3 linked regions of the Homo sapiens genome follow. The protein of the gene in region 1 purifies or fractionates together with the protein of each later gene. This does not show direct contact. Each region holds a gene or a part of one and is shown in the gene's direction. Other genes may lie near its edges. The genes, in order: NOD1, CASP2 and CASP9.

Evidence for each region.
Region 2: the proteins of NOD1 (region 1) and CASP2 purify together in Homo sapiens (affinity purification with western blotting, with the first as the bait; one study listed by BioGRID). This does not show direct contact.
Region 3: the proteins of NOD1 (region 1) and CASP9 purify together in Homo sapiens (affinity purification with western blotting; one study listed by BioGRID and IntAct). This does not show direct contact.

The regions. Positions count from the first base shown.
Region 1 is NC_000007.14:30,458,136-30,461,786, reverse strand, and holds part of NOD1 (nucleotide-binding oligomerization domain-containing protein 1), read left to right. Parts: intron 1-1,745; 5' UTR 1,746-1,886; intron 1,887-2,546; 5' UTR 2,547-2,635; intron 2,636-3,651. UniProt on the Homo sapiens protein: Pattern recognition receptor (PRR) that detects bacterial peptidoglycan fragments and other danger signals and thus participates in both innate and adaptive immune responses.
Region 2 is NC_000007.14:143,301,725-143,305,375, forward strand, and holds part of CASP2 (caspase-2 isoform 1 preproprotein), read left to right. Parts: intron 1-2,059; coding exon 2,060-2,209; intron 2,210-2,949; coding exon 2,950-3,059; intron 3,060-3,215; coding exon 3,216-3,347; 3' UTR 3,348-3,651. UniProt on the Homo sapiens protein: Is a regulator of the cascade of caspases responsible for apoptosis execution. Might function by either activating some proteins required for cell death or inactivating proteins necessary for cell survival.
Region 3 is NC_000001.11:15,517,628-15,521,278, reverse strand, and holds part of CASP9 (caspase-9 isoform alpha precursor), read left to right. Parts: intron 1-2,883; coding exon 2,884-3,169; intron 3,170-3,651. UniProt on the Homo sapiens protein: Involved in the activation cascade of caspases responsible for apoptosis execution. Binding of caspase-9 to Apaf-1 leads to activation of the protease which then cleaves and activates effector caspases caspase-3 (CASP3) or caspase-7 (CASP7).

The DNA.
Region 1 (3,651 bases):
CGCCTGGGTGACAGAGCGAGACTCCGTCTCAACAACAACAACAACAACAACAAAGATCATTCCTGGCATCAGTATTTCAAATGGAAGGGCAGCAGGCAGGAACTCTGATGTCTCAACACCCTAGCTTTTAGTGATTGCCCTGGAGTGGCACTGTCCACTTGAGTAGCCCCTGGCCGCATGTGGCTCTTGAGCACTGGAAATGTGGTTGATCCAAACTGAGATGTGCGATTAAAACACATGCCAGGTTTCCAAGCCATAGTATGAAGAAAAAGAATGTAAACTATCTCATTAATAAATTTTTTGTTGATGGGCTGGGTGCAGTGGCTCACACCTGTAATCCCAGCACTTTGGGAGGCTGAGGTGGGAGGATCACTTGAGGCCAGGAGTTCAAGACCAGCCTGGGCAATATGATGAAACCCTGTCTCTACTAAAAATACAAAAAGTAGCCAGGCATGGGGGTGTGCACCTGTAATCCCAGCTACTTAGGAGGCGGAGGCAGGAGAATTGCTTGAACCTGGGAGGCGGAGGCTGCAGTGAGCCGAGATTGCGCCACCGCACTCCAGCCTGGGCGACAGAGTGAGTGAGACTTCATCTCAAAAAATAATAATAAATAAATTTTGTATGGATGACATACTGAAATATTTTGAGTGTATTAGAATTAAAATATATCATTGAAATTAATTTCACCTGTCCATTTTTACTTTTATTAGTGTGGCTATTAGAAAGTTTTAAATTACTAGGAAAGCTGTGTCATATTTCAATTCAACAGAGCTGCTCTATGGTCTCCTTTTTCCCTTTGAAGATCCGCCATCCTGCAATCCCTGCTTCCTTTTCACCAGAGCAGCTTCCCTGAATCTTCTCCTGGAGGCTCTGCAGACCTTTTCTTTAGTTTGGAAGATCACATTGCAGGAGGGGACTTGGGCACTGGTTTCTGTGAGGAGCCCGGAGTGGTGAATTGCCCCTGGGATTCCCTTACCCTGGAAACTAACCCTCTCTGAGGGCAGAAAGCTAGAAAGAAGAGCGGTTGAGAGGAAATGCCTGTGCAACCCCCAGCTCCCTTCGGGGCTCCCTCACTGCCCACAGGCTCTACCCCCACCTGCCTTTGCCTCAGGAGATGGCTTTTGGTGGTGGACTCACCCTCCTCCGATCTCCTCTGCTTCATTTTTCCACTTGGTGATCCATCTTTTGTTCTGCGGTGTGTCCTGTTTTCTGGCTGCCTCCATTAGCTTGGTTTTTTCCTTTGGGTATCCCTGGAGCTGTCTTACCAGGATCTCCAACTTCAGTCCCCATTGGTCTGCACCACTGGCCTGGGAAAGCTCCACCCAGGAGAGCAGACCCAGCTCCCAGATACCTGGCCCCAGCCCAATCTCCGTCCTCTCTTTGCCTGGAAGAGAGGACCAGACCGTCTTCATCAACTGGACCCACCCTTTACCAAGCAAAGAAAGGAAAGGATTGCCCCCCAGGGCCAGCAGATCTCTGGCTGTCTGGTGTTTCTGGTAATAAGTGCCCATGAACTTCGAATTGATCTCCAGTCTCCCATGGTATGGTTTTGGTCTACCCTTAGATTCTGTTTACCAAGGCAGAGTTCAGTTTCTCTGCTTTCCCTTCCAACATCCATACCTTGTTAAGTTCTTGCTGAATTGAGCTAACTCTGCACACCTGATTAAATCTTCAGCCAGGGCTCTGGACATTATAAAGCAGCCTCCTTGCCAGATGGCTGTCATATAATATATTGCTTTATTTAGGTGATTGTAAGTCAGGAGACTTTCCTTCGGTTTCTGCCTTTGATGGCAAGAGGTGGAGATTGTGGCGGCGATTACAGAAAACATCTGGGAAGACAAGTTGCTGTTTTTATGGGAATCGCAGGCTTGGAAGAGACAGAAGCAGTGAGTAAAACGGGCCCCTCGTGGTAGGCGGGCAAAGGTCGGGAAAGGAGGGATGAAGGAAGCTGTGCAACACCCCTTCCCAGCTTTCTAAAGAATGGAGCATGGCATTGCAAAATGCTGAATCACAAAGTGAGAAGTGACTTCTTTCCAGTTTTCTCTCAGCCTTGTGATGATCTTAAAGAGAAAGTCTCAATTCTGTGCTACTGTGTCTTTAACATCTCTCAAATGCTTCCGAGAGAAAACAGGCCCCAACCCTGGAGCCTTTCCAGGCAGCAGGACTAGCTGGAATACAGTAACATTGTGGTATTTCTGGTGAATTAATTTTTGTGTTACTTTCTATGTATTGCAAAGGATATTTTTTTTCTGTTTCTAATGGTGACATTACATTCCTTTAAAATTATTAGAGTTTTCAAAACTCAATTGAAAGCAAAAGGTTAAGCAAATAAAGGACAGGTGTGACTCAATTATGGCAAGAACAACAAAAAAGTGACTATGGTGGGGACGTTGAACATTTAGAAAACACTGTCCTAAAAGAAGAAGGTACAGAGAGTAGTCTGATACCTGGGAGTACTAGATTTTAAAATTATTCTCTTGCCAATTTTATTCATTCATTCACCATGTGCCACAATAATTTTTTTAAGTCTTTCTTTGATTTTGCAGATTCCAGAAATAAATTGGAAATTGAAGATTTAAACAATGTTGTTTTAAAATATTCTAACTTCAAAGAATGATGCCAGAAACTTAAAAAGGTATTATTAACTGCTAATTTAAATTTAATATTGTCAGCTGGTATGCTTTAAATGAACCGATTTTCTAAAGCTAAGGATCCTAAAGTGGGTCATAGAATTGACTGCCATGGAAAATAGCCGGGTGTGGTGGCTCACACCTGTAATCCAAGCACTTTGGGAGGCCGAGGTGGGCAGATCACTTGAGGTCAGGAGTTCAAGACCAGCTTGGCCAACGTGGTGAAACCCTGTCTCTACTAAAAATACAAAAATTAGCTGGGCATGGTGGCACCCGCCTGTAGTTCTAGCTACTCGGGTGGCTGATGCAGGAGAATTGCTTGAGCTCAGGAGGCAGATGTTGCAGTGAGCCGAGATTGTGCCACTGCACTCCAGCCTGAGCCACACAGTGGGACTCTGTCAAAAAAAAAAAAAAAAGAAAAGGCTGGATTAGTATTTAATAACTTTTATTGGAACAATAACTAATATTTTCATACCTTTAAATTTTTTTGGTGAGGATCTCTTGCCCTTCTGTTGCTGATAATTTTAAATTTTACTCTTTCCTGCTCTATCATTTGGATTCTAAAAAGAAAGCTATTGTGTGGGGTCTGGCATTTGATAGGTTAAAAAAAGAAAACATAGAAGCATGTCAAAGAGCAGGAGACTCATGTGCCACTTGGTGGAAAAAAAATTGAGAACCACTGGACCTGAATGTTAACAGATGTGGCTTGTGAAACATATTAATGATGTGGATAGTGTTAAAAGATCTATGAGCTTTTTTTTGAACTACAAAAAAACCTTTTTTTTACTCTCTCTCTGAAATGCATGAGTTTTCCTGCCTAGACAAACGACAAAGTGGCCAATTCCAGGCCTTTCCACTTCCAAGATCATTTTACACACGCAAGTATTCCTGGACAAGAAGAGGCTGAAGGATCTTCTGTGGGATTTTTTTAAAAAATTATTATTTTTTGCTGTTATTGTTACAAGGAAGGTAGTGAGTGCAATTTTGGGATAACTCAGATGAACCCAAATGTTTTTTAATG
Region 2 (3,651 bases), about 110 Mb from region 1:
TGTGTCTCCCCTCCTCCCAAACAGATGCTCGGATCTGATTTTAAAATAGCATCTGTGTGAGTATGTGAGATGTGGCTGGTCACAATGAAGTGGGTTCACCTCCTTACAAACCTTTAGTCATAACTGAGGTTTTGGACATCAGCAGGTAAAAGTAAGGAACAGTTGGGAGCTTAAGTAAGAAATAATGTGATGAATTGTTTTTCCAGCAAGGTTGCCATGGAGGGGGCTGCACTAAGGAAAGAGGTTATGGGTCAGCAACTTTACTTTTCATTCCCTGCTCTATCCCCAGGCCCAGGGCACTGCCTGATGCATGGTAGCACTTATAAATGTTCAATGAATGGATGAAAATTAATCTGCCTGAAAAACTGTAGGTATTATGTAAAAAACAAATATGAGGATATTGTGACAAAAGAACCAGTGACATTTATTGATTGATGGATCTGTGATATAAAGGTGAGAGAGGAATTCTCCTTTCTCTTTAGCTTGGCCTGTTTCCTTTAGGCGTCTTTACTAACAAAACGACGTTAAATTGTGATTTTCTCATCCTATATCCAGGGATTTAATACACTATTGGATCTGGATAAGGAGTAATTGCTCTTTTCTGGAGTAATCTGGATCTTTTGCTCTGTCTCTCTAACTTTTCTGAAATTAAATCCTTCAAGGAATGACCAGTAGCCAATTGTTCCATTGAAAATTTGAGTTCACCTGTCTTCCTGCTGTATTTGGTTAATATAATTAATGTCTAGAAAAAGCTCCACCCCCCTGCCCCAGTCAGCTTCTAAACTGGAGTGTAAGCTCCATGACGGCAGGAATTTTCTCTTCACTCTATCCCTAGGCCTTAAAGTAAGACAGTGCCCAACACATGGCAGTTGCTTGACACATTTTTATTAAACCTGTGCTTTGGTCCTTTTCCCCCAATTCTTGAAGCTTCCCTTCTTTCCTAGGCTCCCTCGACATTGCATGGATCAGGAAGTACTGTAAAAGAGCATACTCTTACTTTTGATGTGTTGACCTGAGAGTCCTCCCCATCTGTCTTGCCTACTGACAGCACCCCTGCCCACACCCAAAATAAAACAACATCATCAAAAATAAGAGTCTGTCTTGGGATACATAAGGCTTGTATCAAGAGCAAGGATCTGCTCAGGGTATGTTGAGAAATTACTGCTAAAATTGAATAAGGATGATCTTTTTAAATTTTCTGGGAGAAAACAGTCAAGTTCTCCCCACTTTAAGTTTTTCCTCTTAAAATTTTCATAAGGCCAGGTGCAGTGACTCATGCCTATAATCCCAACACTTTGGGAGGCCGAGGCAGAAGGATCACTTGAAGCCAGGAGTTCAAGACAAGCCTGGTCAACGTAGCAAGACCCCATCTCTATTAAAAAAAGAAAAAAAAAGATTTAAAAAGTTATTTTAAAAAATAAATTAAAAATTTTTTTTCTTAAATCTTGGATGCTTGCTATAATTTATCTTATGAAATTAATAAACATAGTGCTTCGAAGATATCAAAACCACCTTGGAAACAACTGATCATACTTAGTTTTATTATTTTTTGATACATAGTTCGAGGTTGTGATTTTTATATAGCATACATATGGTAACCGTATTTGTTATTTATTACCTTGTTTTTTCTTGTTTATGTAATTAAATATATCAATATTTTATTATGTATTGCAATAAAAAGCACTGTGACTCCCAGGCATATTGTTAATTGAACAAGTGAGTTGTGGACTTAGATGATTTTCAGTTCCATTTACAAGGAGTATTTGATTTGGCATTTTCCCTGTCTTACACAGAATGGGAACTGCTCCAACCGCATAGATGTGCATGTGCTTGAGCGTGGTGCCCGGTGTGTATGAGGCATCCCCTGAGTAACAGATGCATGCTGAGAGAGTAATAATTTTTTTTTTTTTTTTTTAGTTTATCAGCCATAGGTTGGAGGCAACAGCTGGAAATGGCTCTTCCCCTTCAAGGTTGTAGGGAACGTGGGCTTGCCTGTGACAGGCCCAAGAGAGATAGGAAGAAGTAACATCATTGTCCATTCTGTCTGCCTTTGTTACAGATGAGACTGATCGTGGGGTTGACCAACAAGATGGAAAGAACCACGCAGGATCCCCTGGGTGCGAGGAGAGTGATGCCGGTAAAGAAAAGTTGCCGAAGATGAGACTGCCCACGCGCTCAGACATGATATGCGGCTATGCCTGCCTCAAAGGTACTTTGAGTTCCAAAAGAGTTGAGTCATACCTCATTTTGTTGCACTTTGCTTTATTGTGCTTTGCAGGTACAGGTTGAGTATCCCTTATCTGAAGTGTTGGAACCAGAAGTGTTTCAGATTTTGGATTTTTTTGTTTTTTTGGATTTTGGAATATTTGCGTTATACTTACTAGTTGAGTATCCCGTATCCAAATATTCTAAATTTAAAACACTCCCATGAGCACCTTCTTTGAGCATCATATTGGCACTTGGAAAGTTTCAGATTTTGAAGCATTTCAGATTTTTTGGATTTGGGATGCTCAGCTGCTTTTTACAAATTGAAGGTTTGTGGCAATCCTTTGAGCATCTGTCAGCACCATTTTTCTATTGGCATGCCTCTGTTAGCATTTTTCAGCAATAAAGTATGTTTTAATTACAGCATATGCATGTTTTAGACATAATGTTGTTGCACACTTAATAGACTGTAGGATAGTAACCATAACTTCCGTATACACTGGGAGACCTGAAAATTTGTATGACTTGCTTTATTGCCATATTCACTTTCTTAAGCTGGTCTGGAAACAGACCTACGGTATCTCCAAAGTATGCCAATAATCCAAAAGAGTACCCTCCTAGACTTAGATTCTTCATGCTGGGTTCTCTGACTAGGGAGGGTGCAGGTGTCATGGCCGAGTCTAGTTTGGGAAGTGCAGCTGTGTGATGGCATTCACACTGTGATTAATGCCCTTTTGGTTGCAGGGACTGCCGCCATGCGGAACACCAAACGAGGTTCCTGGTACATCGAGGCTCTTGCTCAAGTGTTTTCTGAGCGGGCTTGTGATATGCACGTGGCCGACATGCTGGTTAAGGTGAGCCAGCGGGCTCCGTGACCCCTGTGTGTCTCCACAGTGCTCTACTTTCCTCCTCTCTTGAATGCTCTTTCATAGTCCGTCTCCCCTTCCCGTTTGCTGCTCTCCTGAAGCCCGAGATTCTCAGACTTGGGCCTATTGGTTCTGCCCCTCCAGGTGAACGCACTTATCAAGGATCGGGAAGGTTATGCTCCTGGCACAGAATTCCACCGGTGCAAGGAGATGTCTGAATACTGCAGCACTCTGTGCCGCCACCTCTACCTGTTCCCAGGACACCCTCCCACATGATGTCACCTCCCCATCATCCACGCCAAGTGGAAGCCACTGGACCACAGGAGGTGTGATAGAGCCTTTGATCTTCAGGATGCACGGTTTCTGTTCTGCCCCCTCAGGGATGTGGGAATCTCCCAGACTTGTTTCCTGTGCCCATCATCTCTGCCTTTGAGTGTGGGACTCCAGGCCAGCTCCTTTTCTGTGAAGCCCTTTGCCTGTAGAGCCAGCCTTGGTTGGACCTATTGCCAGGAATGTTTCAGCTGCAGTTGAAGAGCCTGACAAGTGAAGTTGTAAACACAGTGTGGTTATGGGGAGAGGG
Region 3 (3,651 bases), on another chromosome or scaffold:
TTTTTTTTTGAGGTGGTGTCCCACTTTTTCGCCCAGGCTGGAGTGCAATGGTACGATCTCAGCTCACTGCAACCTCCACCTTCCGGGTTCAAGCTATTTTCCTTTTTTTTTTTTTTTTTTTTGAGACGGAGTCTCGCTCTGTCGCCCAGGCTGGAGTGCAGTGCCGCAATCTCGGCTCACTGCAAGCTCCGCCTCCCGGGTTCATGCCATTCTCCTCCCTCAGCCTCCCGAGTAGCTGGGTCTACAGGCACCCGCCACCACGCCCGGCTAATTTTTTGTATTTTTAGTAGAGATGGGGTTTCACCGTGTTAGCCAGGATGGTCTCGATCTCCTGACCTCGTGATCTGCCCACCTTGGCCTCCCAAAGTGCTGGGATTACAGGCTTGAGCCACCGCGCCCAGCCAGGGTTCAAGCTGTTCTGCCTCAGCCTCCTGAGTAGCTGGAATTACAGGTGCGCACTACCACGCCCAGCTAATTTTTTTGTATTTTTAGTAGAGACGGGTTTCACCGTGTTGGTCAGGCTGGTCTTGAACTCCTAACCTTGTGATCTGCCTGCCTTGGCCTCCCAAAGTGCTGGGATTACAGGCGTGAGCCACCGCGCCTGGCAGGAGACTCCCCTTCGCGGTCTGCTAAGTAATGGGTGTCTCCCCAGACACTGGCATTACCGCTTGACCAAGGAGCCCTCAAGCGGCCCTTATGCGGGCCTGACAGAGGGCTCACCTCTTGCCTTCTAGGTCACTTCTCACAATGTCCCTTCAGCACCTGACCCTATACCCGCCGGTTATTCCTAAGTTATATTAGCAATGCAACAAAGAGTAATATTAAAAGCTAATGATTAATAATGTTTATAATAATGATTGATAATTGTCCATGATCATCTCTATACCTAATTTGTATTATGACTATTCTTATTCTAACTATTTTCTTTATTATACTGAAACAGTTTGTGGCTTCAGTCTCTTGCCTCGGCACCTGGGTAATCTTTCGCCCACAAAAATTCAGTTCCTCAGTTGTACTACCCAAGTGCTTAATGGTCATGTGATATATGGTTACTAAATAGGACAATACAGACCAAGAATATTTCCATCATCACGGAAGGTTCTCATAGACAGTGCTGCTGTAGGATAGTTGAGGACACGGTGCCATCTTATCCCTGTGGATCCTGAGAACCTGTCCAGTGCTGGGTATCTGAGGACAGGTGGCAGATAACCAGACTCTTCCTTCTTAGTGACTGACCCCACCATCCTGACACCTCTCAATTTTTTTTTTTGAGACAGGGTCTTGCTCTGTCACCCAGGCTGAAGTGCAGTGGTGCTATCACAGCTCACTGCAGCCTTATCTCCTGGGCTCGAGCCATCCTCTTGGGAGCCTCAGCCTCCTGAGTAGCTGGGACTACAGGTGCGTGACACCATACCTGGCTTTTTTTTTGTTATTTTTTGTAGAGACAGGGTCTCACTGTGTTGTCCAGGCTGGTCTCGAACTGGGCTCAAGCTATCCTCCCACTTCAGCCTCCCAAAGTGCTGGAATTGCAAGCATGAGCCACTGTGCCTGGCCTGCCTGTCAACCTTGACCCTTGCTCTGTCTTCACAGTCCCCCCAGTCAGTGCCCATGTCCTATGGACCCTCTCTCTTTGTATCTCTGCTTTGTCCTTTCACTTCTCTCTATTCTAGCTGCACCATCTTTGCTGCCTCCTGATCTGGCTATGGCTCACTCCTTTCCATTTTTCACCCTGACCCCTGGATGACTTTTTGAAAGGCCATATCTGTCTCTGTCACTCCATTCTTAAAACTCTTTGGTGGCCGGGCATGGTAGCTCACGCCTGTAATCCTAGCACTTTGAGAGGCTGAGGTTGGTGGATCGCTTGAGGTCAGGAGTTTTGAGACCAGCCTGGCCAACATGGTGAAACCCTGTCTTAACCAAAAAATACAAACATTAGCCAGGCATGGTGGTGGGTGCCTGTAGTCCCAGCTACCTGGGAGGCTGATGTGGGAGAATCATTTGTACCCAAAAGGTGGAGGTTGCAGTGAGCTGAGATGGTGCCACTGCATTCCAGCCTGGGTGACAGAGCAAGACTCCTCAAAAAACAAACAAAAAAACAACCGATGGCTGGCCACGGTGGCTCATGCCTATAATCCCAGCACTTTGGGAGGCCAAGGCTGGAGGATCACTTGAGGTCAGTTCAAGACCAGCCTGGGCAACATGGTGAAACCCTGTTTCTACTAAAAATAAAAAAAAAATTAGTCAGGTATGGTGGTGTGTGCCTGTAACCCCAACTACTCCGGAGGCTGAGGCAGGATAATCGCTTGAACCTTGGAGTTGGAGGTTGCAGTGAGCTGAGATTGCACCAGTACACTCTAGCCTGGGTGACAGAGTGAGACTCCGTCTCAAGAAAAAAAAAAAAAAACAAAAACAAAACCAAAAAACTCTTTGGTGGCACCTGACAGGTCTCAGGATGAATTTCTTGGCCTGGCCACACAAAGGCCTTGTCCCTTGCCACTATCTACCTCCCACCTCATAAGACTCTGAATTCGCTATTCACTTCATGATATCCTCAGCCCCATGTGCTTCCCTCTGGGCACTTGTCTCTTGTTGTGTCATTGCTGATTTGTCTGATTGCATTCCCCATTAGAAATTTGCTCCTTAAGGACTGAGACTGTCCATGGCAGCATTTTCAGCACTTAGCATAGTGCTGGGCATCTTTTGCCCTGCAAAATAATGAACAGATCAGCAAAGGCTGGTAAATGGCACACAGTGCACCTGCAGCTCCATTGCTGCCCACGTGCCTGATTGTTTAGACTTACAGTAGCTGGGAAATGGGGAGACAAGGTGAGAGCCATATAAAAGTACGTGGATAATTAGTATCCTGCCTTTCTTTCCAAACAGCGGGCAGGCTCTGGATCTCGGCGGGATCAGGCCAGGCAGCTGATCATAGATCTGGAGACTCGAGGGAGTCAGGCTCTTCCTTTGTTCATCTCCTGCTTAGAGGACACAGGCCAGGACATGCTGGCTTCGTTTCTGCGAACTAACAGGCAAGCAGCAAAGTTGTCGAAGCCAACCCTAGAAAACCTTACCCCAGTGGTGCTCAGACCAGAGATTCGCAAACCAGAGGTTCTCAGACCGGAAACACCCAGACCAGTGGACATTGGTTCTGGAGGATTTGGTGATGTCGGTAAGTAGCAAGAGAGTGATTGGTGGGTGGGCATGACACGTAGTCATTTGGGACTCACTATGAGTACAGCTGGGTGGGCTGAGATTCAGAATTTAATTTTAGCATTGTCTTTCTGAATGTTCATAGGGATGGCAAAATTCTGGGAGGTTTTCAGGAGGTTGAATCTTGGCAGCCCCTCCTCTGAAAAGCATGTGTTGAGGTCTGTTTTGGATGTCCCAGGTTTTTTGTTTTTGTTTTTGTTTTTTTTCCTGCCTTTGAGATAGCAGGCCCCAGGTTTTGATCAATGTTTCCAGAGCCATCTATTGTTTTGGATTTGCCTTTCAGTCTGGGTGGGTAGCCTGGACTACCTCATGTCTGGGGGCAGGAGACAGGCCTCAGTTGTATCTGCCCCATACAAACAGACATCTGCAAAGTATTTACCCTTACCTTCTTCGTTTATAGCAACCTTGCAAGGCAGGTATCATTAGACCCATCCTTGTTGA